Homo sapiens: one gene and its partner. The protein of the gene in region 2 interacts with the protein of the main gene of each other region in a biochemical or structural test. Each region holds a gene or a part of one and is shown on either strand. Other genes may lie near its edges.

The links. Proteins that work in one complex are often made in the same cells at the same time.
Region 1: the proteins of IL16 (region 2) and DGKI interact in a test that uses a peptide from one of them, tested with the Homo sapiens proteins (one large-scale study listed by IntAct).

Annotation. Positions count from the first base shown.
Region 1 is NC_000007.14:137,570,904-137,574,560, reverse strand, and holds part of DGKI (diacylglycerol kinase iota), read left to right. Parts: intron 1-1,722; coding exon 1,723-1,796; intron 1,797-3,274; coding exon 3,275-3,386; intron 3,387-3,657. UniProt on the Homo sapiens protein: Diacylglycerol kinase that converts diacylglycerol/DAG into phosphatidic acid/phosphatidate/PA and regulates the respective levels of these two bioactive lipids.
Region 2 is NC_000015.10:81,301,282-81,304,938, reverse strand, and holds part of IL16 (pro-interleukin-16), read right to left. Parts: intron 3,596-3,657; coding exon 3,427-3,595; intron 1,391-3,426; coding exon 1,289-1,390; intron 1-1,288. UniProt on the Homo sapiens protein: Interleukin-16 stimulates a migratory response in CD4+ lymphocytes, monocytes, and eosinophils. Primes CD4+ T-cells for IL-2 and IL-15 responsiveness. Also induces T-lymphocyte expression of interleukin 2 receptor. Ligand for CD4.

The sequences.
Region 1 (3,657 bases), on a different chromosome or scaffold from region 2:
ACATGTTTCCCAGAAGGAAAAAGTAGAAAGTTAAAAAATGAATTCTGTTCTAAATACAATAATATTTATTATAATCTTTCTGCAATGCAACCATAATGCTTTATACACTATTAATATATCACATCCTAGGTTTTAAGTTTTAGTTGCTTATAACATGCAATTTTGACATTTACAATGTCTACTTTTTTATTCATTGGCATAGTCATTTATAACTCATTTCAAGTTCTTAAGTAAGTTGGAAGATGTTTGCTTAGTAGTTGAGAGTACTAGAAAAACATCTTTAATGTCTAGAATTTTATTACTAAGTTATATTTGAAAATAATTTGTTTATTTAAAATTGTAAGATTTCTTGGAAACAATTCTTTGAGAATACTCATGAAAATTAGGCTGTATGGAGATCGACTGGGAAAAAAAATGCAGGTGCTGGAGACAACCTGACCACTAGCAAAATCATTATACTTAGATTGAAACTGATCCTAAAGAACTCTTTCAGAATTTGCAGGGAGCTTGGGGATGCTTTGCTCCTCTCTCCAAATGAGAAGGTAATGGGGAAATCCTGTGATAAGGGTATAAGGAAAGCAAATACGAGAGCAGGCTTTACGCCTTTGACATCGGAAAGTCTATAGTCATGACTAGAGTTATTCTCTTTTGACTTTTGTCACCAGTGGGAAATGAGAAAGGAACATGAAAGACTTTTCCTTGATTTATCAAAGGATGATACCCTTGCAGAAAGCGCTAGCAGATCAGGGAAGCCATCCATGTTCGAGGGTTGTTGAGGCCAAGCTAGGCTGAGACCCTTGATTCCCAGGTCTAAATTCCAGGAAGACAGTGAATCTTAGAAGTCTAAAGTCTGAATGGCCAGGCGCAGTGGCTCACGCCTATAATCCCAGCACTTTGTGAGGCCAAGGCGGGTGGATGACCTGAGGTCAGGAGTTCAAGACCAGTCTGGCCAACATGGTGAAACCCCGTCTCTACTAAAAATACAAAAATTAGCTGGGCGTGGTGGCGGGCACCTGTAATCCCAGCTACTTGGGAGGCTGAGGCAGGAGAATCGCTTGAACCTGGCAGGCTGAGGTTGCAGTGAGCTGAGATCACGCCATTGCACTTCGGCCTGGGTGAGTCTGTACAAGATTAAGTTTCTAAGAACAAACCACGAATGAAGATAATACTACTGTATGATAGATATCTTTTCAAAAGTTTGCGGTACATAGACTTTTTAAAAAGTCTTCAAAATATTTGACATTTGCAAAATAAAAATTGTCTCAAAAAACGAAGAAAATAAATCATTATATTTGTGACTTGTTTGAATCAGATAATGATGGTGGTGAATACTACTGCTTTAACTTGAGGCTTTTTTCTTTTCATTCTTTTAAGTGTTCATAAATCTTTTAATGTTGACACCATCAGTCTAGATAACTAATAATCATCCATTGTTAAGAATGATAATATTTCCTTTGATTGTGAGACCAGAGAAGAAATCATTTTAATCAAATGGAGGTTTTGTTCTTACCTTAAGTGCGAACAAAACCAACCTCTGTACCCTGGGTCCAGTAAAGCTATAACCAGAATATATTTTTAATCACTGTGACCGGCATTCACTTAAGCAGAGATAGGGCAAGGAGAAAGAGACCATGGTGTGTACTATTGTCAAACTAGTTATCTTTCATAGGTTTTTAGACTTGTGACTACTTCAAAACCCCTTTTCTGTTTTCATTGTTTCAGTGTGATGGAACAGATCTCACCCCAAAGATTCAGGAACTGAAGTTCCAGTGTATAGTATTTTTAAATATACCCAGGTAGGCTCTGTTTGTATTGTTTCCTTGGTTTGACGTGAACTCTGACTTGAGGTTATCTGTTTTCATAACAGAAAAGTTTCAGATGTAAACAATGAAGATCAGTTATCTAAATGGGTAATTAAAGATTTCTAGGTCTGATAATTCATTCTCCGATTTGGTTTATTTAGTGTTCTTTGTGGTTGGTGGTTTTGTGCGTCATGTGGCATGCATTGTCTGTACTTACCCATCTTTAAGAAACCCAGGCACCCCTCTTGACTGGAACATCTTAATTTATTTCTAAATTACTGTTCTTCCCCTCTTCCTCCCCATCTAAGAATGAGAGAATTGAAACACTTTTTTTGTTCTCAGTTTCCTAAAAACTGTTGAAAAACCATCCAGTCTGATTCAAGTGCGGAATTCATTCAAAATTGTTGCCAGATGATTTCTTTGAAAAATAGGATGAGTTAGAGTATTGTTTTCTAGCCAGGATGTCAACTCTCCATGGTGCTATTACGCACTTCAGGAGAAAGGGATATTTAAGATAACTAGACTCAAAATAAACATATTATCTCAGTGGCATAAATTATGTTCTAGGCCCTGAAGCCAAGATTTTGGAAGGGATGGATCTATAACCATTTATTTGCCTGCCAAACAACTCAGACACAAAATCTGCAAATACATTGTATTTAGACTGAATTTAATTGAAATGAGAGTTGTATGTAAATCTGTGGCTAGGAAAACACATCATAGTCTCCTGATTATTCTTGGCAGTGCTCAATATAGTCAGTTACAATTTTATTCCAGAAATATTTACAGCTTAATTGAAGTAGAAGGCCTTGATTCTCAGAAAGCATTGTTTATTACTTTGCTTTATTATTCTTTCTCTTGTCCTTCCTCTCTTGTCCTTCTTCCTCTCTTGTCCTTCTTCTGTCTTTTCTTGCTTCTCCCTCTTTCCATCTGTATTCTTCTTCCTCTATTTCTCCAATTTCTTCTGTTTCCCATTCTCTTTCTAATCTCTTATCTATATTTCATCTCTTCTTCACTCTGTCTTCCATAGTTACCTTTCCCTTCTCCTGTGAGTACCTCTTATTTTGCTTATGTATTAATGGCAAATGCTTCCCACTTCATTTCCCTGTCTCTTTTCTACTGGCATGCATACATCTTCCTTTAAGACCAAATTCTGAAACCACCTATAGATAATTCATGATATATCATAGAAAACAGACATACATGAATCATAGTGAGAAATATAGATAACGAACGAGGAGAAAGTTGGATACCACAGGATACTTTTGTTGCAAAATTATGGCCCGTTTTCACAGCTTGGTATTTTGTAGATGATAAGAAGTGCATTTCCTTTTCTAATGGAAGGTGTGTACCAAGAATGGAAAACTGTTTTTATGTTTGATAAACATTGGGTCTAACTACAAACTAACACCTCATGATAGTCATGAGAAGGATGGGACATATTTACTTCTGTCTTTAATCTTCTCTTGCAGATATTGTGCTGGCACAATGCCCTGGGGAAACCCAGGTGATCACCATGATTTCGAACCTCAGCGTCATGATGATGGTTATATTGAAGTCATTGGATTTACCATGGCCTCTTTGGTGAGCAATATAACTGTTTTATTAAAATGAAATGTATTTTAGTCACAGAGTTTATTCAATTCACAGGACTTTAGTTAACTTTTTCTCCTGCTTTATCAAGTTACACATTTTATGAATTATAGAGTTGCTTAGGAAAAACAAGAAAAAAAATCATCATTTATGTCACTAAGAAAACTGATGCACATTTGTTTGAACCTCAAGAATAAATGAGTATCACTTCTTACTTTTCCTGATTAATTTTCTAACAGAATGAAAAGTTTTTATGCTAATT
Region 2 (3,657 bases):
TCCATTATAATTAAGAGGACTGAGTGATAGCATGCATGGAAACCACTAAAATGTGGTACCTGTAGTTTTGCTTTTATGATAGGAGCAAAGCTCTTTGCTTCTCTAAATTGTTTTGGTGTTAGAAAAATTCTGTTACATGGTTAGAATCCCCAGGCTGTAACATCCAAGCATGAAGCAGAACCTCTCCTCTGAGCCTCAGGTTCCTCAATGCTAGAGGATTTTTAGGCCAACGAAGATTAAAGTTAATTAAAGGAGGAACCTCAGGTTCCTCCTCTATAAAAGAAGCATAAATGCCACCAATTTATCAATCCAAAGTGTGGGTAGGATGAATTTAGACAACAGGTCAGTGAGTGCTCAGCATGGCCGTGGATGGTGCTCTACGTTAGTTCCCTTTTAATCATCTGGAAAGGAAGAGAAATGCTCAAACACAGAAGGAGAAAGAAGCTTTTGTGCATGTGCTCAGCCAACATGTGCGCCTTCCTCCTAGTTTCCTGTTGTCTGCAGTGTCTCAAGGGTGACTGGCCAGATGACGTGGACAGAAGTTGCTACTCATGGACAGAGAAAAATACCCAAAGTGCCATTCCCACAGGCAAGCTCTCTTTCCTCCTCTTCAAGTAGAAAGTAAACTACACGGTCAGGAATCTTTTTGTAATACTCAGCTGCACTCAGTGAGAGAAATAGAGACTTACAGGTTTTAAGTGTTTTTTATGTGATAGAAAACTTATCAGGAAATCAAGGAAGTCACCACTGACATGATTGACTCTGAAGTGACACGCAGGAACATGCCAGATTGCCACTGCAAGGGGGTGTGGTATGTTGAATGCTGGCTGATGCTGTGAACTGGAGGATTTGTTTTCAGTTGGGCATGGAAATTCAAATGAGCCCAGCACAGCCTACACAAAGGATACCCTGAGACAACACAGCCCTGGGATGACAGCAATGCACTCGGCTTTAGAGAGCGAGCAGCCGCAGCATGGCTCCACAAAACTGGCAGAACCAGAAACCATCTGGGTCAGGTACAGGTGACCTGAAGGCAGCAGCCAATGCTGATCAGATTGGATGAGCCAGAATAGTGGGACCCACAGGAAAAGATGCCCATGGCCAGGCCTGCTACCCTCTCCACGCAGCCCCAGGCTCTGGGATGTGCTGAGTGGACAGGACCTGCCCAGTGGCCTAGTGTCATGCATTCTTCATTTCCCCAGCACAGGGCCCCTTCCTGGCAAGTGTGTCCCCCTCCCCCAGAACCATTGCCTCTGGCTGTGACATGCCCCTTCACTTGGCCACTCACCGTAATCACCTTGTTTTCTAGATCTGCTCCTCCTGCCAAGCTGAACCCAAGACCAGCACCTTCCTCCTTGTGTAAGATGGTGACATGGATGCCGTCTAATTGCTGCAGAGGAAATACATACATTCAAAAACATTTTACTGCAAGAGGATGAACAATTTAACATCGGACTGACATCAGACTGATTTGTTATCTCAAACCCCAGCTTGGCCAGCCTCCAAGTTACATCACCTCCTCAAACCTCAGTTTCCTCATCTGTAAAGAATGGACCTTCAGGAGTCATGGGAAGCTTAGAAGAAAAAAAAAATGTATGTAAAGCAGCAAGCATAATTATTTTCCTCTCTCATTCACCCTGTCCACAGCCGGGCAGGGGGAGTGCCATGAAGTCAGCCAGAAATCAGCATATTGGACAGTGTGAGATGAAGTCAGGTTGTAGGACTTCAGGTAAAACAAAACAAAAAAAAAAAACAACAAAAAACAAAACAGGGGTCAGTGCTGTTCTGCAGGAATTGGTTGCTCCTTCTTCCCTTCTACTTCTCCATGGGTCACAGCAGCAGCACTAAGGAAGCCCAGCTAACATCCTGCCCCAATGCACAGTGTGCAAGTGTGACACACACACACACACACACACACACACATTACTACGGTACTTCCTAGCCTAGACGGGGACTCCCATGGAGCCAGGACACAGTCAGAGACTCCTATTCCAGTCTAGAGCAGGGGTCTCAAACTCAGATGCCTATAGGAGTCAGGCAGGTCCCTAAAATGAGCCAAATGGGCAGATGTGTGATAGGAACTGCAGAGCGCCAACGAGTACATCTGCTCAAAGGGTCAGCTCTACGTAGGCATACAGAACTAGCGCTACCAGATCACTTCCCTAAAGTCCAGGTTTCAATTCAGGTTTTATCATGTATAGAATTCAATATTTTTTTCATCACCATGCAGACCAAATAAAGTACACCTACAGGTTCTTGGGGCACCTGTTTGTACCTTGGCACTAAGGAGTAAACTTATGTCAAAGAATTCACTTGCTCAGCGTCACTAGAGCACCTGACTTGCAGCTGTCCCTATGATCCTAAGACTTGGAGCCCCTAAGACCCAAAGGCATGGAAGGATGAATGTACCTCACTGCACCCTCACCTCCAAGCCCCAACACTAGCCCAACTCTCTCAACTTTTACCCAAGTATCAGGTTACTTGCCTTGTAGAAGGCTCTTCTCATGTTAGAAAGCAAATACTCTCCCCAGAGCAGCTCAGGCAGGATGGCTCTTTGTGTTTTACACGCTCTGCCTCTGTTATTTCATTTGCACTGAGTAAGATCCTGGGGGATGATGGTCCCAGGTGACAAGTGAAAGCCACAGCGAAAGAATCTCAGCACAGCAGCACCTTGGGCTCATCAGACTCACCTACACTCTTGATGTGGAAATTGCAGCTATGAGGCCTCCTTGTATGGAAAACGAGAACCTCCTTATCCTCTCATCCTAGCCTGGATCATTCTAGTGCCAAAAGCCTACGGAGGCCTGGGGCAGCACCTAGAGGGTGCAGGACCCATGAGCCTGAGCTCATTTGACTGCTGGCCCCAGCTCAGCCTGGCCACTTCCTCCCCACACCCCTTTGGGTCATGCTCAGAAAACATATGGGAAGTGAGACTTTCAGAATGACTTGACTGAAGCGTGGGGGACTTGTGAGCCCTGGGATCAGCCACCTCTCCATGCACAGTGGAAATAATGAAAGCTCCAGGTGAGAGCTCTTGTAACCCACATTGTTTACAATGGACAGCATCCCACAACAGACACATGCCAGGACAGCAGCACATGGAATGTGGAAACAGCACTGAACTTGAACTTGGAGACAGAAAACCCAGGTTCTGTAACCTTGATTGAGCCTTACCTTTCTCATTTATAAAATGACAAAAGAAGATGCAAGAAGTCAATCTACTGAAAGTGGTTCACAAGCTAAAAGGCTCTCTTCAAATGGAAGGTCTTACTGTGGTCAAGTGCTACAGTGTCCCACCATCACAGGACGCAACCTGGGTCTGATGTGAGCAGGCTACTCAAGCTACTTCCCCTCTGGCCCAACTAAGGTGGCCACACAGCCATAATAAGCCATTGGTTACTGCAGATGCTTACAAAGGAAACCTACCTTTAATGTTGCTTCATCCAGAACCTTCACCTCCTCGATGAGTTTTTTTAATTCTTCTGAGCTCAGCAGGGAGATAACGGACTGACCAGACTGAAGGGAACTGTGGTCCCCATCATCGTCTTCCTTGGCTTCCGTGAGACCCTCTGTATATTCTCTCAGCTCTGAAAGGCTTTCATAAGGAGAAACAACACACAGTATGAACAACAATATTAAAAAGAGGTAACAGTGATT